Homo sapiens: one gene and its partners. The protein of the gene in region 2 purifies or fractionates together with the protein of the main gene of each other region. This does not show direct contact. Each region holds a gene or a part of one and is shown on either strand. Other genes may lie near its edges.

Evidence for each region.
Region 1: the proteins of PTPN4 (region 2) and PPM1G purify together in Homo sapiens (affinity purification with mass spectrometry, with the first as the bait; one large-scale study listed by BioGRID). This does not show direct contact.
Region 3: the proteins of PTPN4 (region 2) and SVIL purify together in Homo sapiens (co-immunoprecipitation; one large-scale study listed by IntAct). This does not show direct contact.
Region 4: the proteins of PTPN4 (region 2) and GOLIM4 purify together in Homo sapiens (affinity purification with mass spectrometry; one large-scale study listed by BioGRID and IntAct). This does not show direct contact.
Region 5: the proteins of PTPN4 (region 2) and PPP1R9A purify together in Homo sapiens (co-immunoprecipitation; one large-scale study listed by IntAct). This does not show direct contact.
Region 6: the proteins of PTPN4 (region 2) and NES purify together in Homo sapiens (co-immunoprecipitation; one large-scale study listed by IntAct). This does not show direct contact.
Region 7: the proteins of PTPN4 (region 2) and SCML1 purify together in Homo sapiens (affinity purification with mass spectrometry; one large-scale study listed by BioGRID and IntAct). This does not show direct contact.

The regions. Positions count from the first base shown.
Region 1 is NC_000002.12:27,399,592-27,403,091, forward strand, and holds part of PPM1G (protein phosphatase 1G), read right to left. Parts: intron 1-3,500.
Region 2 is NC_000002.12:119,951,922-119,955,421, reverse strand, and holds part of PTPN4 (tyrosine-protein phosphatase non-receptor type 4), read right to left. Parts: intron 3,450-3,500; coding exon 3,293-3,449; intron 266-3,292; coding exon 99-265; intron 1-98. UniProt on the Homo sapiens protein: Phosphatase that plays a role in immunity, learning, synaptic plasticity or cell homeostasis. Regulates neuronal cell homeostasis by protecting neurons against apoptosis.
Region 3 is NC_000010.11:29,523,472-29,526,971, reverse strand, and holds part of SVIL (supervillin), read left to right. Parts: coding exon 1-11; intron 12-2,256; coding exon 2,257-2,500; intron 2,501-2,944; coding exon 2,945-3,500.
Region 4 is NC_000003.12:168,022,925-168,026,424, forward strand, and holds part of GOLIM4 (Golgi integral membrane protein 4), read right to left. Parts: intron 2,172-3,500; coding exon 2,004-2,171; intron 1,671-2,003; coding exon 1,602-1,670; intron 1-1,601. UniProt on the Homo sapiens protein: Plays a role in endosome to Golgi protein trafficking; mediates protein transport along the late endosome-bypass pathway from the early endosome to the Golgi.
Region 5 is NC_000007.14:95,271,094-95,274,593, forward strand, and holds part of PPP1R9A (neurabin-1), read left to right. Parts: intron 1-2,805; coding exon 2,806-2,893; intron 2,894-2,991; coding exon 2,992-3,075; intron 3,076-3,500. UniProt on the Homo sapiens protein: Binds to actin filaments (F-actin) and shows cross-linking activity. Binds along the sides of the F-actin. May be involved in neurite formation. Inhibits protein phosphatase 1-alpha activity.
Region 6 is NC_000001.11:156,671,336-156,674,407, reverse strand, and holds part of NES (nestin), read left to right. Parts: intron 1-880; coding exon 881-954; intron 955-1,202; coding exon 1,203-3,072. UniProt on the Homo sapiens protein: Required for brain and eye development.
Region 7 is NC_000023.11:17,750,993-17,754,492, forward strand, and holds part of SCML1 (sex comb on midleg-like protein 1), read left to right. Parts: intron 1-822; coding exon 823-974; intron 975-2,265; coding exon 2,266-2,400; 3' UTR 2,401-3,500. UniProt on the Homo sapiens protein: Putative Polycomb group (PcG) protein. PcG proteins act by forming multiprotein complexes, which are required to maintain the transcriptionally repressive state of homeotic genes throughout development.

The DNA of each region.
Region 1 (3,500 bases), about 93 Mb from region 2:
TGAATCTGGACAGAGTGAGATTCTGTCTCAAACAAAAAGTTCAAACATCATTAGCCATTTAGCCATCAGAGAAATACAAATCAAAACTACAATGAGATACCATCTCACACCCACCATTAGTTATTATAAAAAAGGTGGATAAGTGTAGTGAACATGTGAAGGAACTGGCATCCTCATATATTGCTGGCAGGAATGTACGACGGTACAGCAACTTTGGAAAACAGTTTAGCAGTTTCTCAAAATGTTAAACACGTAGTTACCATATGACCCAGCACTTCCACTCTTTGGTATATAACCAAGAGATATGAGGACATATTTCCACACAAAAATTTGTACATAGTATCACTATTTATAATAGCAAAAAAAAAAAAAAAAAGTGGAAATCCAAAATGTCTATCAACTAATGAATGGATAAACAAAATGTGACAAATCCATACCATGGAATATTATTCAACCATAAAAAAGAACGAAACACTGATTGATTCATGACACAACATTGATGACCCTTAAAAATATTACGCTTGGCCGGGCGTGGTGGTTCATGCCTGTAATCCCAGCACTTTGGGAGGCCGAGGCAGGCGGATTGCCTGAGCTCAGGAGTTCGAGACCGCCCTGGGCAACACAGCGAAATCTCGTCTCTACTAAAATACACACAAAAAATTTAGCCGGGTGTGATGGTGGGTACCTGTAGTCCCAGCTACTCGGGAGGCTGAGGCAGGAGAATCGCTTTAACCCAGAAGGTGGAGGTTGCAGTGAGCTGAGATCGCATCACTGCACTCCAGCCTGGGCGACAGAGGGAGACCCTGTCCCCAAAAATAAAAAATTAAAATTAAAAAATTATGCTTAGGCACAACTATGATACATCAACTGAAAAATATCAGGCTGGGTGTGGTGACTCATGCCTGTAATTCCAGCACTTTGGGAGGCTGAGGTGAAAAGATTCCTTGAGGCCAGGGGTTCAAGGCCAGCCTGGACAACACAGTAAGACCCTGTCTCCATGAAAATAAATGAATAAACAACAATAATTAAAACTGACCTCCTGGAGATAAGAAAAAGAGTTAACTAGGAGATAAGAGAAAATTCAAGAATTGTTAAGTCATTAATTTGAGATGGAGTTCTGGGTCTTTTGCTTCCCTTCCATCAACTAAGTGAGGAAGGTTCCAACAGAAACAAATGGGAGTGCCTAAAAGAAAACTAGCATCTCTTTCCTGGTTACACAGGCAACAGACTTGGTGATCTGCCTGAGCTCTGTCTATCTGAACAGAAGGAGAGAATTTTAAAAAGTGCCCACTGGAGCCTGAACCATCCTGCTGGTATCCATCCAAAGGAGTCCAGCAGTATGAGGTCAAGGATACACAGCAGGTGGTAAAAGCCACAGAAAAGTCTAAAAACCAAAAGTGGAGATCAAGTCCCTCTGGGCCAGGCCTGGCTATTGCTGCAAACACAGAGATGGTGAGTGATAACTGGATATGAGACTGGAGTTTTAAAGAGATTTCTGATTCTATTAAGCTCTGTAAAATAAAACCTGCAAGGCACTGATCTAGAAAGAAGCAAAAGAACCTTGGGTCAGCAAAATACTTATTCTTAAATCTACTACAACAATGTATGTGTGATTTTTTTAAAAAGAAACTTACAGGCAAAGCTGAGGGGTAGAGGGAATACTTGGGGTGGAGAGTAATTTACTCTTCCAGGGGCCAACAAGCTTTAAAGTCAATTTCAAAAATACACATGCTTAGTAAAAGCATCCAGATATAAAAGGTAGTGTATTTAGAATTCCATTTATAAAATGTTCAGAATAGGCAAATTCATAGAGGTCATGTAAATTAGTGGATGCCAGGGGTTAGTGGACGGAAGATAGGGAGTGACTGGTAAAGAGTACAGGGTTTCTTTTTGGGGTTCTAAAACTGATTGTGGTGACAGTTGTACAACTCTGTTTGAATACACTACAAAACAGGCAGGCACGGTGGCTCATGCCTGTAATCCCAGCACTTTGGGAGGCTGAGGCAGGCAGATCACTTGAGGCCAGGAGTTCGAGACCAGCCTGGGCAACATGGTGAAACCCTGTTTCTACTGAAAATATAAAAATTAGCTGGGTGTGGTGGCGTGAGCCTGTAGTTCCAGCTACTCAGGATGCTGAGGCAAGAGAATTCGCTTGAACCTGGGAGGTGGAGGTTGCAGTGAGCTGAGGCTGCGTCACTGCACTCCAGCCTGGGTAACAGAGCAAGACCCTGTCTCGAAAAAAGAAAAAAAGAAGAAAAAAAAGAAAATATACTAAAAGCCACTGAATTATACCCTTAAAATGAATGAATTATACCCTTAAACCCACTGAATTATACTCTTAAAGTGAGTTCATATACTGTATGGTATATGAACCATATGTGGTATGAACCATACAGTATATGAACTCTATCTCAATAAAGCTGATTAAAAAGGAACCTGTAAGAAATAAATAAAATAAAAAGGAACCTGTATACACATTTTCAAATACTAAATATGATTAAAAGGTGTTGTTTTTCTGCTAGCATTGGGTCAAAAAGGAAAAAAAAGTTGATATACTTCATCTCTGAACTAGATCTAGAAAGAAACAAAAACAACTACACTGAAATCATACTCTGTCTACAAAATGTCATTAAACATCTTAAGCTCAGTTCTAAAGATTTGTTTCCAGATAATACAATGTCAAGAACTACTGATCAGACCTGTATAAATTTCTATGTTCAAATTCAAGCCCTTACCTCTCAAAATTCAATTCTAAGACTAATAACCCAATAGAAGATTAGAGGTTAGGGAAACAGTAGTAACAACTGCTAAGGAATCAGACAATAGAACTTTGTGTAAAATATCCTTGAAATCTTGAGGAATACGTTCTGATTGTATTTTCCAGTTGCTTGAGAACTTATAAGGCAATGGTATAAAATATAAAATAATTTCTAGACCAGGCATGGTGGCTCACACCTGTAATCCCAGCACTTTGGGAGGCCGATGTGGGTGGATCACGAGGTCAGGAATCGAGACCATCCTGGCTAACATGGTGAAACCCCGCCTCTACTAAAAACACACACAAAAAATTAGCCAGGCGTGGTGGCGGGCGCCTGTAGTCCAGCTACGCGGGAGGCTGAGGCAGGAGAATGGCATGAACCCGGGAGGCGGAGCTTGCAGTAGCTGAGACCGCGCAACTGCACTCCAGCCTGGGTGACAGTGTAAGACTCCATCTCAATAAATAAATAAATAAATAAATAAATAAATAAATAAATAAATAAATAAAATAAACATAAATAAAATTCCTCAGCCTGGGCAACACTGCAAGGCCCTATCTCTACAAAAAAAAACTTAAAAAAAAAAAATTAGCCAGTCATGGTGGCATGTGCCTATATTAGGCTGAGGCTGGAAGACCCCTTGAGCCCAGAAGGCTATGCAGTGAACTATGATCGAGCCACTGTAAAGGCAGATAAGTGTAGTGAGGATGTGAAGGAACCGGCACAAGAAATCCCATACTCCTT
Region 2 (3,500 bases):
TTTAGAAATTATAATGCACAGATTAGGCACTTAAGAAACTATGAAACTAGTTAGCAAATATCAGCAAAATGCTTTTAATATATAATGATATTACTTACATCAAACTGTGTCAGGACTGTTCCAGTGATAAGCCCCTCAGCTAGCTGGATCATTGACTCCCGCAGGGAATGGTCATCCTGATGCACACTATCTAGTGGGGCTTTCTCAGGAATATACTGGAAATCTGGCTCATTTTCTAGCTTTTCTTCCACTACATCATATACAGCTAAAAAAAAAAAATCAAACAAACCCCAAAACGTGGAAATCTTAATGAATTCACACGATAGGAATTTACCAGATACACTGTATAATGTTTTGTTCAAAAAATAATTCATTTGTGAAGAATTACACCAGATCTGAGTCTGGTGTCACTATGGGGGGACAGAAACTAGTTGTGGAGTTGAGGGGCTTTGCTGTACCTTTGGAGGGAAGAAGTGTTCTTGGCTACATTGCTGAAAATGTCTATAACTTGAAGAGACAGTAAGAAAGAAGAGCTGCTGAGAAGCAGCTGTGAATACACCCGCTCTTAATTTGTAGGGGACCTAGGGCAAGAGTACAAATAGAGACCTATATACCATATGTTTAACTATGAGAAGTTACAAAAAACTTGAACACAGTGCTAAACAAAATATGCTTCATCCTCTTTCTGTGATGTATCTACAAAACAACCTGGGAGGCCAGACTATAAATGAGAATTCTAGGCCAGAATTCATGGTCATGGTAATGTGAGGAGATTCAGACCCTAGATCCTAGGCCTGTATTCTACCGTTACCCACTCTCAGTCCCATTTTTTAACATAGGGGCTTATAAACATACATGTGAAGATCCCAGCCCACATGCAAGATATATCTATACCTGTCCCTCCACAAACTGTAGCCTCTTAGCCACCTTCTGGGCTAGGATACACACACCATGTGAACCCACCTTGAGAGAACGGATGTGTGGAAAATACCCATGAAGATCTGGAGAGGCTCAGGGTTATCTGGACCCAGAACTGAGGTTTGAAAAAAAGTGGTATAGAAAGGGAAGGGAGGTTACAGCTTGGCATGTCCTTTTGGTCCTATAAAATTATGACTCCACTGGGAGAAGAAAGAGAGCCAAAGCAGGGCCTTCTAAAACATGGAGCCAAGGTAGGGGCCTCTTTACCCTTGCCTAAGAGATCTGGTTCCTCCTTGAATATCTATACATTTTTTTAGAAAAATAAATTTCTGAAATGAAGAATGAAAAGACAAAAAGGTATGACAACATTTTGCCTAAGAAGAAATAAGAATTAAAGGAGAAAAGATCAGAAAAACAAAAATATATTCTTGGCAAACACAGTTTTAAATTTTAATTATATGAAACTTTAAGAATGGAAAAGACAGACCCACACTGAAAACAGATGCAGGTTCTGCTCCGTATTTTGACTATGAAACAATTTAGAAAGATATTTTGCAAGAAGTAGACCCTGGTGGGTTCCTCTCATACTATAAAGCAAAAGGATGAGATCTGGAATTGTAAAAAGGCTGGGTCTTTGCCATCATATGGATTTTTGTTCATATTCTGGCTCTGTGGCGTCATGAATCTGTGAGCAGGTAACTGAATGTCTTGGTGTCAAAGTATCTTCAGCTCTAGAATGGGGATAATTCATCAATCTCATTGGATGTCTATGAGGATTAAATGAAAATATACAAAAGAGCCTAGGTGCACAGAAAGTTTTTAATAACTATTAGCTAATATTATTGAGTTCTTTAGGATCTATTATCAAGAGAAAATATAATACAATAAATACAGAAAAAAATGTTATTCCTGGTTTAAAATTTAAGTAGCTGTATGTGACAGAAAACACCTAATGACTCACCTAAGTATCAAGTCTAAATGAACAAGTTCCTTGAAAAGTCAAAATAGAATGTTCTGTTGAAGTCCTTTTAATCTTCCTAGAAAGCCAATTCTAGACCATTAATGGAAAAGAACACAAAGTGGAGAAGATAAAATGAAAACGCCTATTTGTGAACAAGAGGTACAAAGAGGATTTTTTATTTTTTGTTTACAAAAAAGAAATATCCTTGCAAAATTTTGCAGGGTTGGGTGTGGTGGTGACAAGTAGAATTCGAATGATATTTCACTTTCCTATGGTACATATTCAAGTGGTAATATGGCATTAACAATAATTATTCTGTGGCTAAAATAATGATTAATAGTAAATTGTATAGAACAAAACCAGAAGAATATGTCTAATCCTGGGATATTAGACATATAAAACTTTTTTCTTAGAGCAGACTGATAAAGTGTTGAGGGAACTCTAAACAATGCCATATGAACACTGGCTGAAGACTCTAGGACTCTTAAACTGGAGAAAGGGAGGTGGGTTTCTGGTAAAATTAGCTATTGTCAAAAAACTGAAGGAAAGGGGGTTAAACTTATAATGCATAGCACAGAGTGACAGACTTAGGAGCAGGACTGAAGAAAGATGGACTTTTAGTTCAATTTATAGTTTGAGCTATCCAAAGATGGAATGACCTGTTTCAGGAGCCACAAAGTGCTCTATCTATATTGGTAGAATGTTCTTGAGGTTGTTGTGGAGGAAATTCGTGCAATTAGCCAAAGAGCTAGAGCTTACGGCATTCAAGTTTTCTCCAAACCTGGAATTCTATGACTATGAATTAACAAGTCAGCTGTCCAGATTGGGAGATGACATGATTAGGCAAGTAGACATCATATACTGAAAACAAAGGCAGTATTTTAAAAACACTTTAACTATAGCTTGTTATGGCATTTTCTAAAAGTGGAACAGAGTTCAAATTTACTCATTCATTCAACTAGTATTTATTGAGTACTAGTACTACAACTATTACCATTTAGGGGAAATGGGAGACCATTTTAGCTATGGTAGTCAGGAGAGAAAGCCCTTCTGAAGATGATATCTGAGCAGAGACCTGAATGAAGTATAGGTATAAGTCATAACAAAATCAAAAAGAGTATGTCAGCACAGGGAACAGCAAGGATAAAAACCCTAATAAGTCGATTAGATTGGAAGATCTGAGTAACTGCAAGAAAGCTAGTGTAGAATAGAGGAAAGTAAGCAAGGCTGAGTGGGAGCAAGGGGTGGGGGGGCAAAGAACTTGAATTCTGCTCCACGTGTCAATGAAAGCCACTGTGCTTTGAGCAGGAAACTTAGGTGACTTATGTTTTATGTCAGAAATCTGGCTGCTGTGCTCAGTAATGAACAGTAATAAATTACTATAAATTATCTGGTACTACATAGAGTACTCACCATTAGGTCGAACTAGAAGCATGAGTTCCCCAGAATGTCTCTCACAACTAGCTTTAATAAACAGCACAACCTGATCATGAGTGTGTTCTGCAATGTCCCGACCATTGATCAGTACAACTTGGTCCCCTTCATTCAGTCTAGGGACACAGAGGTCAGCCTGTAATATAATATAGATAAGGTTTCAGATTGGCATGCAACTTTCTGAAAG
Region 3 (3,500 bases), on a different chromosome or scaffold from region 2:
CAGCCTGCCAGGTACTGGACAGATACAGATGCATGCGGCACCCGGTGCAAAGGTGCCGAACAGCAGATGCATCCTAAAGTCTTGAATGTCTGTCGTTTGTTTGACAAACAAGTCAATGCCGTGAGTTGTTCCAGAATGCGTGGCATTTTGTTTTGTCATAGCACAAGGTGCTGATAACCACATGCTGGCGTGCGTGGGAAAACATTTTGTCTCTCTGCATATGTTATGTGTTAGAACTAGGATCACACTAACTCACGTATCCAGTTGCTTTGTTTGTTTTTCATAATAATGGTCATCCCTCAAAAATTTTGTTCTTCATCTAAATACTGTTATAGCACTTAATAAAGATTAATAGAAAAATGGGACATTGGCCAGGCGCGGTGGCTCATGCCTGTAATCCCAGCACTTTGAGAGGCCAAGGCAGGTGGATCACGAGGTCAGGAGATTGAGACCGTCCTGGCCAACATGGTGAAACCCTGTCTCTACTAAAAATACAAAAATTAGCTGGGCATGGTGGCATGTGCCAGTAATCCTAGCTACTTGGGAGACTGAGGCAGGAGAATCGCTTGAACCTGGGAGGCAGAGGTTGCAGTGAGTCAAGATCGTGCCACTGCACTCCCGCCTGGTGACAGAGCAAGACTCTGTCTCAAAAAAAAAAAAAAAAAAGAAAGAGAAAAAAAGAAAGAAAAAAAAAGAAAAATGAGACATTAACCTGAATGTTGAAATGCTGATAAGACCCAGTCTTTTTCAAACACCTGTAGACACAAATACAGACTGAAAACAATCCTCCCTCTTTCTAATTTATAGAGTCAATGCCATTATATTTTGGGACTGGGAAAATAACAATTTGTAGTGTCTAAACGTAGATGTTTTACTGTCGTGTTTCAGATTGTGGTGCTTTAAAATTATGTCCTCACATCAGGTCATATCCCTTCATTTTACTGTTATATGAGCCAAACCGCAAAAGCTAAAAATAATGGCAGTGCCGGGATAAAGCTGGTACACCCACAGCAGGGCCCTCCCGGAGAAGTGGGTTTCCCTGCCCTCCTGGTTACTGCACGAGGTCCACGGAGGACTCTGAGGCTCAGGTGGCTTTTTTGTCACTGGCCTCATTATACACCTGGAATATGGAAGCTGGCTACTCTTTGGCCTGGGATAGCCTGTGCATTGGGGATTCACTAGAATCAAGGCAGAATATCTCCTTTACTAGATCTGACAATTGGATCGGTCAGGGACAGAAGATATAGTGCATTACAAACCCCTAGAGATTCATATTGACCGTGAAGACTTCAGGCTTTCCTTCTCTTCTAGCTGGAAGTTGGAGGGAGCTATTTATTTATTTACTGATTTATGTATTCATTCATTTATTTTTGAGACAGAGTCTTGCTCTGTCGCCCAGGCTTCATCACTGCACACTGCAGCCTCTACCTCACAGGCTCAAGCGATCCTCCCACCTCAGCCTCCTGAGTAGCTGGGATCACAGGTGCACACCACCAAGCCTGGCTAATTTTTATATTTTTTGTAGAGATGGGGTTTCACGATGTTGCCCAGGCTAGTCTCCAACTCCTAAATTCAAGTGATCCTCTTGCCTTGGCCTTCCATAGATATGAGCCACCAGACCTGGCCAGTTGGAGGGATTTATAATCACCTGAAATTTTCTTTACTCCTCTGGTTACTGGAAATTGCAGATTTAAGTACCTTTTAGAAAACTGGTAGGAACCTATGAGAGTAAATGCTAAGCTGAAGCAGTGACTCTTTAAAAATTAAGCCATTTGTCTTTAGCAAGTAAAAATCAAGACCTTCTGTTATGTTGTTGACAGAGGACTATATCGTTTCCTAATTATTTAAAATGAAAGACCACCTTCTGAACCATATCTTTAGATAAGGTCTAAATACACCGTAGGTAATACTTTGTGACTCCCTTTCATTCTACTTATTACGATACTAACAATGCCGCCTCTCTGTCTAAGATAAGGTATAGCCAAGCTGACTTCAATGTCTTAAACAGGAAATTCGTTTTGTAGAAATAATTCGGAGCTCAAAGTCTGCTCTTTGTAGAAGTGATGATGCTAAGTGTCCTGTGCCGACTCTGCTTGTTGAGTAGCTGAACAGCTGCCTGCCTCTGTCCTAGACGTGCTTAGGGAAAAAGAAGCCCTTTGCAAAATGATGTGACACTTGGCAGAAAGTTAACGTAGAAACTTAGCGGTGTGCTTTTGTTTGTTGGTATATGTGTTGCTGACATTTTATTTTTTTCAGATTGCAGGCCTCTGCTCACCAAAAGGCCTTAGCCAAGGACCAGACAAATGAGGGCAAAGAGCTTGCTGAGCAAGGAGAACCTGATTCCTCCACTCTAAGCTTGGCCGAAAAGTTGGCCTTGTTTAACAAATTGTCCCAGCCAGTCTCAAAAGCGATTTCTACCCGGAACAGAATAGACACGAGACAGAGGAGAATGAACGCTCGCTATCAAACTCAGCCAGTCACACTGGGAGAGGTGGAGCAGGTGGGTGTGCTATAGTCCGATTGCAGTTTGTGTGTGTGTGTTCTTAAATTATAGCACTGCAGTATTCCTCTGAGGTCAATGATGTAATTAAGGTGCTCTACCAGGAAACTGCTACCTGTAGGTGATTTGGTAATAGCTTTCTTCCTAAAAATGAGAATTCTACCAAGTATGTTGCTCTTTTTTTGTTTTCATACCTTGCTTGCTGAAATATCTAGAATGAGTCCATTTTGGAGAGAAAAAAATAGTATGCCCAACTGTGTTTCACCCAGAGGATTTTGTTTAATGAGACGTATTATATAACTATGTCCAGGAATGGTTTTCCACTAAGAGAAACAGTGAAACTGCATCAAATCGAGTATTTCAGCTTCTGTCAATTCATAAACCAGGATTTATATAGATGATATTTTTCAAGCAGCTTTTTAATTTTTAACTGTGTCCTTCCAGGTGCAGAGTGGAAAGCTCATTCCTTTCTCACCTGCCGTGAACACATCAGTGTCTACCGTAGCATCCACGGTTGCTCCAATGTATGCCGGAGATCTTCGCACAAAGCCACCTCTTGACCACAATGCAAGTGCCACTGACTATAAGTTTTCTTCTTCAATAGAAAATTCGGACTCTCCAGTTAGAAGCATTCTGAAATCGCAAGCTTGGCAGCCTTTGGTAGAGGGTAGCGAGAACAAGGGAATGTTGAGAGAATATGGAGAGACAGAAAGCAAGAGAGCTTTGACAGGTCGAGACAGTGGGATGGAGAAGTATGGGTCCTTTGAGGAAGCAGAAGCATCCTACCCCATCCTGAACCGAGCCAGGGAAGGAGACAGCCATAAGGAATCTAAATATGCTGTTCCCAGAAGAGGAAGCCTGGAACGGGCGAACCCTCCCATCACCCACCTCGGGGATGAACCGAAGGAATTTTCCATGGCTAAAATGAATGCACAAGGAAACTTGGACTTGAGGGACAGGCTGCCCTTTGAAGAGAAGGTGGAGGTGGAGAATGTTATGA
Region 4 (3,500 bases), on a different chromosome or scaffold from region 2:
GCTGAGTTTAGGCAGCACTCAGCCAGGGCAACCTCCTCTGTCTTAGCACCATTTCTCCTTTCCTCTTGCCTCTTTCTTCTCTTTCTACTCTTGATTCCTCTTGGATCTCAGGATTTCTCTCCTGTACCTTAACTGATCATAATATAAAATTGAAAAGGAATCAGTAAACACTGGTTAAAATTTTATGTTTAATCTTCTGAATTTTTAAAAAAGAAGCCAAGGTGAACTTTTCTCTTTTAATCCCTCAAAGATTCCTAGTATTGGACATAATAAAACAAAGTGGTATTAGTCTAGACATCCTGTTATATGAGAAGCCTGGATGAATATCTTTTTCTTGCCCAATGTCTTAATATTCAAGGTCACTATTTTCTCTGCTGCTCTCTTTCTGACAAGACAGCCAAGGGTCTTGATTAGGATGAGAAACCAAAGAACAAAAAGATCAAGCCAGTTAAAGTGCATGTTATTAGAAATGTTGCCAGTGACCTTAAAGAGCAACATCCTTTTCTGTTTTCCTGGTATAAGCACAAATTTTATCATCAGCTCTGAAAAGCTTACAAAATCAGTAAGAACAAGAAAGCAGACCTAGTCGAGGGAACTGTGTGTGTGAGAGCACAGCTCATGATTTCTGCACAGGATCTCCAGTGATGGGGTGTGTCTGTTCAGTCTGCCATATGTCCATCCTCCCATGGGGTTCCCCATAGGGATAAAACCACACATTTGCAAGACACCTGGCTGAGAAGCAGCTCTGAACCAGGGTTTTAATTTGGGAACTACTTACTGGTCCATAATGAGACTAAATACAGGGTCTTGGCCTAATTTGTATCAGACTCTTAAATATTGCAGTTGTTTATGCAGCGGAATGCTGTGATAAAACGGCTACAACAAGCAGCATTCACCAATTACACCACATGCAGCACCACAATAATCAACTACACCGTAAGCAGCACCACAATAAACGCTACTTATATCTAATTAACAACAAGATGCCCGAAGTTTACAATGAAAAGCAAACTAAAATATTAAGAAACTCTATCCAAATGCATTTTATTCAGCTGAGCTCTTTACATCTTTTTCCTCCTCTTTTATTGTTAAATTTAATTAAGATACTGAATTCTTAAGAAGGAAGAGGCCAGAAGGAGAGACTGTAAAATTTACAAAAATGTTTGGAGGGTGTTAAGTGGATTCCGATAGACACTATGGGGTATTCCTGTGAGGTAGGCACTGGGGAGATGCCTGAAGAGAAAGTTACAGGGGCAGTCCAGATTCCCTCAATGTGCAGAGGGAGAGAGGAGAAAATATTCTTACAAAAGATTGCACAAATCTAAGTCCACCATTCCTGGAAAGCCAAATGCCTTCTTAATTCAAAATTTCAGGTGAGAACCAAAGAGATGGATTCTATTACCCTGCTTTTGTTATCTTCTAACCAAATGTCTCCAGTGCCATGATCCATTTTTGCTTTAAACCACCCTTTCTTATCCTGCTTAAATTTTTCTGAACATTTCTGTGGAAGGCATGTCAAAGTCAATACTGCTGAGGTTTGTTTAAGGTTAGTGTGTGTGACAGACCAATCTGATCAGTCTCTGGGATTCAATCCTTACTACCTCCTCTTCTGCCTCTTCCTGGTACTGTTCATCAACATTGTCCTCCTGCTGGTCTGGATTTCCTGCCATCTGTTGGAAACAAAAGGGCAGGTTCATGTTACTGTACATCAGAGATGCCTTTTACACAGTACTCTGGGACAAAGAACAAGCATGCCACCATGAAAAGGGCACTTTCAAAGCGTCTGTGGCCAGGAAATGATGAGTAATCATTCCCAATACAAAGCCCAGGATGTCCGTTACCCTCTCTCTCAGAGTACAGGCATATCATGTCATAAAGTGGCCTAAAAACCACCGAAGTGGCAAACCTTCCGTCAATGTGGAATATGACTAACCTTTTACATAAACCAGATGTTTCTTAAAATAGCCCAGTTAAATCCACCCTTCCTCGTGGCATCTGCTTACCACCAAATGTTCCTCCACTTCTGTATTCTCTTGCTTTTGATTACTTTGTTTTTGCTCTTCATTTTCATCTGGCAAATTTTCTTCTCTCACTTGCTCGGCTTCTTCAAATTCATCCTCACCTTGATTATTAGGGTCATCTGCTGGGTTTATATCTTCTACAGCTGCCCTCTGTAAAATTTTAATAAAAAGCAACTATCACTTCAAAACTGAGGATCAAGTTTAATTTCATTTGAAAAGGCTGCCCACTGGCAGAAAATGAAATTGTCCTTCCCTCAATTGTTCAGATCTATCCTTGCCAAGACTCACAAGAATCAAGCATCACACTGTCAAAAGAGAAAACTCCTGCTTTACTTGTCAGAGGCTTGATGAATCAGAATGAGGTTCAAATAGCACTTCTTTCCTGCAAGTGATTTCAAAATAGTTCTCAAAACTCTACTGACACAAGTAATGTGAACAGAACTGAATAAACAAGAAAATAATTAATAAAAGTCAGAGGACCAAGTGACAAAAAAAATACTAATTTAGGTGGGGGATTTAGATGGGCAATTAACTCTTTTTGCTATGTTGATTTTTATAGTAACTTCCCTGTGCAAGCAATTTTTAACATGTCAGCAGGTGAAAAGTTGTTGATGGGAAAGAAGGCCCATACCAGAAAGGACCCATAAAAAGGATACGAAAAGGAGACAAGAAAAAGGCTAATTCAAAAGGAAATGGTCATTTTCTAGTATGGATCCAATTTCTTTATTAACAATCATTCCCATGAAACAGAGAGATGCTGAACTGGCGAGGGATGGGAGTTAAAAAGGGCTGAGCTACCCAACTGCCCAATAGGGCAATATATTATGAAAAATGTCCTCCCAACTCATCTCCCAAATTACTGTGCTCAACAAAGGCCCTTCATATTATCAACTTTAGAATTATTTCAATTTTCCACTTAAGCTCCCAAAGCACCTTCCAAATAATACACATCCTAATAAAGATTTAGATTTTAGAGCCTGAGATGGAGAGGAACAGTGATGCTTGTCATGAGCTTCCCCAATCACTCGCAGGTCATCAATAGGACACTTACTAAGCTGTAAATGCTTCTAAGAGACAGTAAAGCCACAGAGTAGGATTTGGTCTCTATCAGTATTCTCCAGACAAGATTCTACTTCAATTCACTTAGGAGTCTTGAACATGTTTGAGAGTTCACTGCCATCTCAGCTGATCTATTATCTGCACATCCCTGGCCATGAATGTTACTCCAGTGCAAATGACACTATTCTTGGGAACGTAGAGACTACCAAATTACCACCTTCACACTAAACTCTAATTACTCCACAATCTCTTGTCATATGGATTTTCTTTAGTGCACTATCAAAAATTTGTATGGAATTACAGGAAAAATGTAACATATTCTTTTCAGAAAAAAGTACCAAATATCTTTTGCAAACGTTCATAAAATTGACTAGCTCAACTCCGACCACGTAACAGGTATGAATTAGCAGGCACAGTTGT
Region 5 (3,500 bases), on a different chromosome or scaffold from region 2:
CAGGCACATATCATATGATTTAAAGGTACAAGGCTATCCCAGCCTGGCTGTAGCAGTTTGCTTATGCAGGGTGGAGTAGTTACACACAAAAGTGAGCCAGTAGGTTAAGTATATAGCTTTAGAAGTTAAACATCTTAGATAACTTGCCATATTACTAGGAAACCACAAGAAGTTTGACCAGAGGAATAAAAAGGAAAAGACACCACCAGGTATGGAGAAGCTGAGTTAGGAGACCCTATGAGGTGGTGCCCTCTAAAGAGGAGCAGTAGACAGTGACAGGAAAGAATGATTCAAGGACCCTTGAGACATACCTTGACTAGGTAACAGGTAAGAAAGTGAGGCAAAACTATCATGGGCTTCACGCCTCAGAACATATGGTCTTGTCATTAACAGAAAATAGGAAATCAGCAACATGATGGGGGAAATAGGATTAACTCATTTTTTTAACAGAGGAGGTCATGAGCGCAAGAGAGAGGTCAGGACTGCCAGGTAGATTTGGGAGTCCCCATTATAAAGGAAGAGATAGTCAAGTATCTTATTACAGTGAGATTAAGGAGATGCAGTCCAGTACAAGACCTTAGGATTTGGCCATCAGGAGATCATTTATTATTTGAAAATGAAAACCAGGTTGCCACAGCTTAAAGTTGAGGCACCCAATCTGGGGGCTCAGATGTATAATTGGTCACAAAGGTAGTATTGGAGAGATTTTAAAAAGCCTAACAGAAGTCTTACGTAGAGCTAAATAAACAAAATGTATGTTTCTTTTTTCCTGAAATCATACCAATCTAATGTTGGATTTTATGCAGACTAGAAGTTCTAGTGTGCATTAAAGATGGATTTAATCGATTTTAAATGGGAAAGTACATTATTCCTTATTCTTAACATCTTCAGCCCTATGGAAGCATTCATTTCAGTGTTCCTGGGAACGCACTTTGGCAAATGTGTGAGATAAAGATGTAAGGTTGCCTAGCACCAAGCTCTGTGATAGGCAGAATCAGGCTTTTAGTCGCATGATGTCCAAATAACTGCAACACTCATGGGTTACAGAGTGTTTTCGTGTACATTGCCTCAGCTGGTCTTCTCAGCGCTCATTGTAACATCTCCCAGCTACCTCTCATTCAGGAAATAATTAGGCAGTCTCCTTTTAACTTTGCATAGTCCTAGCCATTAAGAGTTGCTTTAGGATTGATCTGGAAGAATTTGGCACTTTCTTTTCTTCAGCTTCTATTAAGAAAATTTAAATCTTGCTTTTAAAAATAAAATCCATTAGTAAAATCACCTTAGAAGGTGTTTGTGCCATGTCTATGTCTATGGATTTTTTTATATGATTGTGTCACATCTGTGACAATTCAGTTACCCAAAGAGTAATGATGCAAATATGCATAATAAATATTTGAGGCTTGAAGTGGATTTTTGACACAGACATATTTCTGACTCTTGTGTTTCATTATGTACATTTCAGTGAGTTGCTTATTGTAATCTAAGTATCATTAACTAAAAATATGAAAAGCTCATTGCTAAAAACATTTGGAGTATTTGTCAGTGTCCTGTGCTGCTTGAGAGCTTTGAACCTAGACTGCTATCCATGAACTGTGTGTGTACTTCATGTTTTTTAAAGGTGTATGTCGATGTGTGTTGAGAAATTTCTCTTGAAGTAAACAAAAATCATGAGCAACATTAACCTGCAAAGTTAATTGAACACTTTTTTAAGAGGGCCATTCTCTTTGCCTTCCATACTAGAAAGTTCCTAGAAATTTAAAACACATTTTAAAAGATAAGAGACAGAAAAACAGATACCAAAAAAGAACTGGGGAGGAAGAGTTTCACACATAAAAAACATCAAATTTAAAACAGCATTTGTTAATCATCTGAGCTAATTGGATATGCTGAAACGTGATGCCGATCAGTACCCTCTGCTGAATAGTTTGGGTAGAGCCTGTCCGAGATGGAACAAGTGCCACCAGTGGAATTGGTTCCCACCTTGACATTGAACTCCATTTGCAAAGCCTGTCTTCCTATTGGCTTTTGGTATCATTTCGAGGGTCCCCATTCCCCAGCAGCTGCTACCTTTGAGAGTCCTAGAGGCAAAGATCAGTCTGCTCTGAACACTGAGGAGATTTTGGCATCTTCCACATTAAGGGGAACCAGCCAAGTTTTGCTGTAACCTAACTATTAAGAAGGCCCTTTCAAAGATATAAATGTTTTGTAGCTGAGCCCCTGTTTAAGGAGTCTCCCCCATGTCCTCCCCTCCTCTGTTCCAGGACCGGCCACAGGCCATTAGCAAAGGAGAGCCAGAGAAGAAAACTTTGACTCTGACTTTCCCCCTAAATCTCCCAGACTCTCAGAGGTGATATTCTGCGCTGGGCTTTGGAGATACGGGAGAAGTGGGCTATGTTCCTGTTAGAAGGCACTACAACCCCAAGGCAAGAAAGGAATGGAGGACAGAGCCCAGGCACTTGAAGCCAAGAATTTGGAGCCAGAGAAGGAACAAAAGTCATGTTGGTCCCTACTTCGAATGCAGAGGATGATTTGAGAGTATTTATTCTCCCTTGTTCATTCCCATGCAGTTGAAGCTAAAACTCTTTGTGATGAATGTTGAGCCTCTGTCCTATAGAGGACCTCCCCTGCTTAACTGCGAGTTCCTCAATGTAACTGTGTCTCCTAGGTCGTATAAGAAGGCATTGATTATTTATTTTACAATTAGGAATTTAGGCAAAGCCCTTAGATTCAGAGATGCATTGACTTTTGAATTGTGACTTTAAAAATAATAATAATTGATCTTTTTCACAAATGTGTATATCCTAGATGATGCCAAAGATCCCAAATCACTAAGGGCATCCAGTTCATTGGCGGTGCAAGGAGGAAAAATTAAGCGGAAGTTTGTGGATCTGGGGTAAGCACTTCACGATGTAAAAAGAAAGCCCTCTGTAAAAGGAGGATTGAAAGAGAAAATTTCAGCTTCCCCTTTCTGACTGCTTACTATCATTACAGGGCGCCTTTGCGAAGGAATTCCAGCAAGGGAAAGAAGTGGAAAGAAAAAGAAAAAGAAGCCAGTAGGTTTTCTGCAGGTAGCAGGTACGGTTGTGTGATTAAGAACACGTGTATTTCTATACCTAAACTTTCTGGCCCCCTCTTCTATTGTTAACCAAAATCAGTGGTCAGTATCTTTGAGCTAAAGTGATATGCCAAGAATTGAGATGGAAGAAAAATTGCACAATTAGTTTATATTGGTCTTACTCCAATTATAGCCTCCATCTAGCCTTGGGCATATCCATTGGTTCTTAATTGCAGAATTATGGCCACATGAACCATTTCAATAAGTGTTTATCTAAATTCAGCACAAATATATCTATGTGATACTTCAGAAATATCAAATATATTTATGTGATACTTCAGATTTTTTGCCTGGCTACCCACAATGCTAGTGCATTGTATTAAGTCTAAAAGGATAATCATTTTGCATTTAAGTACCTTGTTGACATTCAAGATTGTCTTGTCCA
Region 6 (3,072 bases), on a different chromosome or scaffold from region 2:
CACCGCCAGGGAAGAGAAGCCCAGAAGGAAGGCCGCAGCACTGGCAAGGACAGAGGTGAGGCTACAGCGAGTGCTAACCAGACTCAGAGATCATGGAGCAAAGCAGAGAGGAGCAGCTGCTCATCCTAAGTTATTGAATTGATTGGTCCCTGCTCCCCTCTTTGGTTCAAGGGGCGCTGAGGAAGGGGCCTGGACACAAAGACCTCTGTGCCCCGAAGAGCTTGGGATCCAGAGTGCTTAGAGATCCTGAGATGAGGGCCCTGACCCCCAGTGAAGCCACCAAGGGGAAGGGTCTGGTGGGCCCCGAGGAATTTAACTGCTATTTTTTGAGGCATGAAAAGGATTTGGAGAGGGGGAGCTGAATTCATTTGCTTTTGTCTGTCGCTAGCTCTGGGGGCCACCGGGGAAGGAGGAGGGAGCCCATCCCATGGGAACGGCCTGAGAATTCCCACTTCCCCAGAATCCTCTCCTTCTCAGACCCTCCAGATGGTGGCTTGGACAATGGCAGCAATTAGCATGAGAATCGGTCCCCCACACAGAGGATGAGGTCATTGGCCTGGGGTGGGAGGAGGAGGCTAGCCTAAGCCTTGTGTGGGTGTGTGTAGGGCAATGTCCGACTGTGTGGGAATCTGCTTCTATGTCTGAGCTCTGCTGTGTATCCCAAATACAGTGTGACTTTGTGTGACCAAGTGTGTGATGTCTGTGGGTATGTGACTGTGTGATTTCACCCTGAGTGTGGCTTTTGTGTGACAGTGTCAAATGAAGAGGAAGCCTGCAGGGCCTGGATGGTGCAAGCTCAGCCTGAGTTGTCCCCAGCTGGCTTGCTGCCTGCAGGCCTGGGGGCAGAGGGCTGACCCCACTTTCCCTCTGTCCTCTCCAGGACCCTCCTGGAGGCTGAGAACTCCCGGCTGCAAACACCTGGCGGTGGCTCCAAGACTTCCCTCAGCTTTCAGGGTAAGAGGAGGGGCCAAGTTCCCCCAGAAACTACCCTGCTTTGCTCTTCATACCCAGACCTATCTTTCCCGAGAGGCACCAATCTAAATTTCAAGTCCGTGGCCTCCAGTGTCAGTGAGCATGCTCTCAGCCCAGCCATGGGCGCCAGGGGCAGGCGCATGGATACTCTTGCCAGCGGTGGCTGCTCTGTGGCTCCCCTCATTGCCAGTGATATACTGATGCTGTTTCTTCCCCCTCTGCCTTTCCAGACCCCAAGCTGGAGCTGCAATTCCCTAGGACCCCAGAGGGCCGGCGTCTTGGATCTTTGCTCCCAGTCCTGAGCCCAACTTCCCTCCCCTCACCCTTGCCTGCTACCCTTGAGACACCTGTGCCAGCCTTTCTTAAGAACCAAGAATTCCTCCAGGCCCGTACCCCTACCTTGGCCAGCACCCCCATCCCCCCCACACCTCAGGCACCCTCTCCTGCTGTAGATGCAGAGATCAGAGCCCAGGATGCTCCTCTCTCTCTGCTCCAGACACAGGGTGGGAGGAAACAGGCTCCAGAGCCCCTGCGGGCTGAAGCCAGGGTGGCCATTCCTGCCAGCGTCCTGCCTGGACCAGAGGAGCCTGGGGGCCAGCGGCAAGAGGCCAGTACAGGCCAGTCCCCAGAGGACCATGCCTCCTTGGCACCACCCCTCAGCCCTGACCACTCCAGTTTAGAGGCTAAGGATGGAGAATCCGGTGGGTCTAGAGTGTTCAGCATATGCCGAGGGGAAGGTGAAGGGCAAATCTGGGGGTTGGTAGAGAAAGAAACAGCCATAGAGGGCAAAGTGGTAAGCAGCTTGCAGCAGGAAATATGGGAAGAAGAGGATCTAAACAGGAAGGAAATCCAGGACTCCCAGGTTCCTTTGGAAAAAGAAACCCTGAAGTCTCTGGGAGAGGAGATTCAAGAGTCACTGAAGACTCTGGAAAACCAGAGCCATGAGACACTAGAAAGGGAGAATCAAGAATGTCCGAGGTCTTTAGAAGAAGACTTAGAAACACTAAAAAGTCTAGAAAAGGAAAATAAAGAGCTATTAAAGGATGTGGAGGTAGTGAGACCTCTAGAAAAAGAGGCTGTAGGCCAACTTAAGCCTACAGGAAAAGAGGACACACAGACATTGCAATCCCTGCAAAAGGAGAATCAAGAACTAATGAAATCTCTTGAAGGTAATCTAGAGACATTTTTATTTCCAGGAACGGAAAATCAAGAATTAGTAAGTTCTCTGCAAGAGAACTTAGAGTCATTGACAGCTCTGGAAAAGGAGAATCAAGAGCCACTGAGATCTCCAGAAGTAGGGGATGAGGAGGCACTGAGACCTCTGACAAAGGAGAATCAGGAACCCCTGAGGTCTCTTGAAGATGAGAACAAAGAGGCCTTTAGATCTCTAGAAAAAGAGAACCAGGAGCCACTGAAGACTCTAGAAGAAGAGGACCAGAGTATTGTGAGACCTCTAGAAACAGAGAATCACAAATCACTGAGGTCTTTAGAAGAACAGGACCAAGAGACATTGAGAACTCTTGAAAAAGAGACTCAACAGCGACGGAGGTCTCTAGGGGAACAGGATCAGATGACATTAAGACCCCCAGAAAAAGTGGATCTAGAACCACTGAAGTCTCTTGACCAGGAGATAGCTAGACCTCTTGAAAATGAGAATCAAGAGTTCTTAAAGTCACTCAAAGAAGAGAGCGTAGAGGCAGTAAAATCTTTAGAAACAGAGATCCTAGAATCACTGAAGTCTGCGGGACAAGAGAACCTGGAAACACTGAAATCTCCAGAAACTCAAGCACCACTGTGGACTCCAGAAGAAATAAATCAGGGGGCAATGAATCCTCTAGAAAAGGAAATTCAAGAACCACTGGAGTCTGTGGAAGTGAACCAAGAGACATTCAGACTCCTGGAAGAGGAGAATCAGGAATCATTGAGATCTCTGGGAGCATGGAACCTGGAGAATTTGAGATCTCCAGAGGAGGTAGACAAGGAAAGTCAAAGGAATCTGGAAGAGGAAGAGAACCTGGGAAAGGGAGAGTACCAAGAGTCACTGAGGTCTCTGGAGGAGGAGGGACAGGAGCTGCCGCAGTCTGCAGATGTGCAGAGGTG
Region 7 (3,500 bases), on a different chromosome or scaffold from region 2:
GCATAGCTAAAACTTTCTGAAGTATGAGCAGTTAAACTGTCTCATATCTCAGTTATTTTTTAAACATATAAACCTTTGACCAAAATCTCTATTACTATGCAATTAAACATGAAAGAGGAATTAAATAAAATGTTAGTTACTTCTGACCTAGTTCAGCAGAAAATAATCTTGTTTTCTTCACAATGCACATTAGCACTTAAGCCACGAGAGACAGGAATCTAAAAAGTAAAGCGATACTAAAAATAACCTTATTGAATACGTGGGGAAGATTTGATAAAAGTACTAATTTGGTTCTTAAAGATAATGGGGTTGTTATTGAGATTCATTGATTAAAAGGAACAAATTTAAGCAATTATAAAACTGTAAATTTGGAGAATTTCCATTATATTTTGCTAGTAAAATTAACCTAATCTAGATAGATTAAGAGAGAAATTCCTTGAAATACTTGAAGAGAGTCATAGGTTAGGTTAGATTAACCTAATTTTACCCAAGTGACAGATCTTTTGCCATATTTGCCTGTGGCCAAAGAAGACTTGGTTTACTTAGTCTGTTTTGTGATCTTTGAAACTTTAATGTAACTTCTGAACCAGCTTTTGCTATTTAGGGGAGGTCAGATGGGACACTCTTGTGTAGGCATCCCCACATCATCTTTATATAGGCTTTCACTAGATTTTACAGTTGGAGTCTTGACTCCTTGCTAGGAACATCACAGAAGGTTCCAACAAAGAGAGCATTCCTCCTTACCTAACATCTCTTCTTTCAGGATAATGATCAGGTCGAGTGTGATTTGTCTTTTTTTTCTTTTCCCCCTCTCCATTGAAGTTACAAGGTCACCAGTTGAAAATGACGGTTACATAGAGGAAGGAAGCATCACTAAGCACCCTTCAACCTGGTCGGTGGAAGCAGTGGTCCTATTTCTAAAACAAACAGATCCTCTTGCATTATGCCCTCTTGTCGACCTCTTCAGAAGCCATGTAATGTATCTTTTGATCCTGTTTTCCTGCTGTAATGCCTTTGAATGACCTCTGTGCAGGTCTTTCAGTTGGATACTGTGTGAATGGTGGGAGAACCCTATTAGCTGATTTTTCCATATATGAGAAAGCTTATTTTGCCCAAGGTTAGCCTTAAATGGTAGGCTAATGGTCTGTTCTTTAAATGGGTGTAGAAGTGCCTAAAATACAAACTGCCTCAGCTTCTTAAGACATGATGATTCAGCATGGCCACTCAGGTGTACCTCCCCTTTGTAATGACAGATACAAAGATCCTCCCCCTATCTGCTCCCAGCTGGGCACCAGGACCACGAGGAGGAGGGGGTAACCACAAGCTATAACAGGGTGGCCTTCGTTTTATATAACCAGTGATTCAACAACTGATTCCATTTGCCTCGATTATTGATGATTTGTAATGCTAATACCCTCTTGCTATTATCAGACCATTTACAAAGTAATATCCTAGGCCGAAGTTTTGTAAGTTCTAGTTTCTTTAATTTTGAGTTTTACTTAGTAGAAAAAGTATAGAAGGTGCCAAACAAAGGTTGTACTATAAGGGATTTCAGACCTTTTCAGATAGTGTTAAATGAGTAAATAAAATTTTATTTTTTAACTGGAACATATAAAACCAAATCATATGCTTCAGCAGCATAAGTTGATCAATTAAGATAAGGAATTTTAGGAGAATGCTTTGTGACTATGTTTTATTTATTCAGATATTTTCACAGTGTGTCCTAACAAAATTAGTAGCCACATATCTGATTTTTAATATAGTAAGAAAATTGGTGATTAGTTTTAGCATCTAATTAGTTTCAGACAACTAATTGGCATTCATCATAAAGACAACATTGTATAGACATTTACAGTTTGCACTGATGTTGACGTACTCATCTTCCCAGCCCTTCTCAGAAAGTTAATGAACATCTGAAATTCATTTTTACTATTCATAGTCTTTACTATTTTGTCATGGATGTGTAGTATTTTATTCAACATACAGTATATATTTAAAATTAAGTTTGACACAGTTTATTTTTTAAGATATTATGTTAAATTTCCTTTTTCTCAGAACTTGAAATGAGTTTATACATTACCAAACGGTGCTTCACTGTACAAGTTATATTTTTAATAGTTTTCATAAAGTAGACGCATATTCAGAGAATATACATCTGCAATGAGCTGCTCTCTAGTTTGCTTTACATGTTCTCATAAAGAACTAACCATTCTGATGAAAATATGGAAGCATTATTAATTATCGTTAAGTTTCTTCTCTCCATAGGAAATTGACGGGAAGGCTCTGCTCCTACTCACGAGTGACGTGTTGCTGAAGCACTTGGGGGTGAAGCTGGGAACGGCTGTGAAGCTATGCTACTACATTGACCGACTTAAACAAGGAAAATGCTTTGAAAATTGAAAAAATCCTTGTGCAAATTTAGATTGGGCCAACTTCTAGAGGCACCAATGCCTTCTTAGTGTGGAATCATTTTTCTGCCCTTTAGTCGTTTTTGTTTTGTAGAAAGTATCTCTCAAAATATATTATAGCTAGAATTGTAGAACTATGTTATAGTCCAGTCTACTTCTTTAAAAACCATTTAAACTGCTAGATAGTATTAGAATAGTCCAATAGAAAATTCATTCTTTATAGGTCTTTAAAAATTACTTTTATTATATTGTTTACAAATATATTTCATGCAAGAAACAGAAAAAAAAAAAAACCCTTTGATTCTGGTTCATCTCGATACAGAGAACCAAAACAGCTAAGAGAGGTATTATCAGGGTTGACAACTCCTATGATTGAATCTATGGGAATTATTCCTCAGAAGAGAATTTAAAGGTGTACCCATATATATCTCTTTCTGGAGTATTTTATCTGTCTGATGTTGCAGTATTCTACAAGTTTCCAGAAAGAGAATAGCCATATAAATTATTTTCCTTTCTGCTATTATTTCTCTATATGTTTTATTTATTCAGATTTAGAGTAAAAAATAAGCATATAAACTTTTATTATGTGCTCTTAACAGTTTTAAGATAAACTATAGGATAGATAGAATGGTTATTTTATGCAAGAAATATTGTACCGCAAGGGTGGTTTGGATGAAGTCTGACTACTTTTTTTCAAACAAACTATTATATTAAAACTGTCATATTTTGGCTAAGTTTGGACCTATAACTACACTTTCATTGTTTGCATCTCTCTATGAAGATACGTCTGTCCAAACTTTTAAAAGGCATAACTGTATTTTATGTGTTTATTCTTTATATAGATAGTATTTTATATTTTATTCTCACCCGAAGTATTCACACAATCTTTTTAAAAAAAATTTGAAATGGCATTTTGTATTGCCACAGAGGTAGGATGAGCCATATATTAGTGAAATGTTTTATTTTGTAAAATATAAATGGATTATTTGCCATCATTAGTACCTCTCAACTTACTTTTTAGAGGACAAGAAACAATCTGTAGATTGGTTTCCATACAGGGAAGTTCTCCGTCCTATGCAATGTTTCTAATTA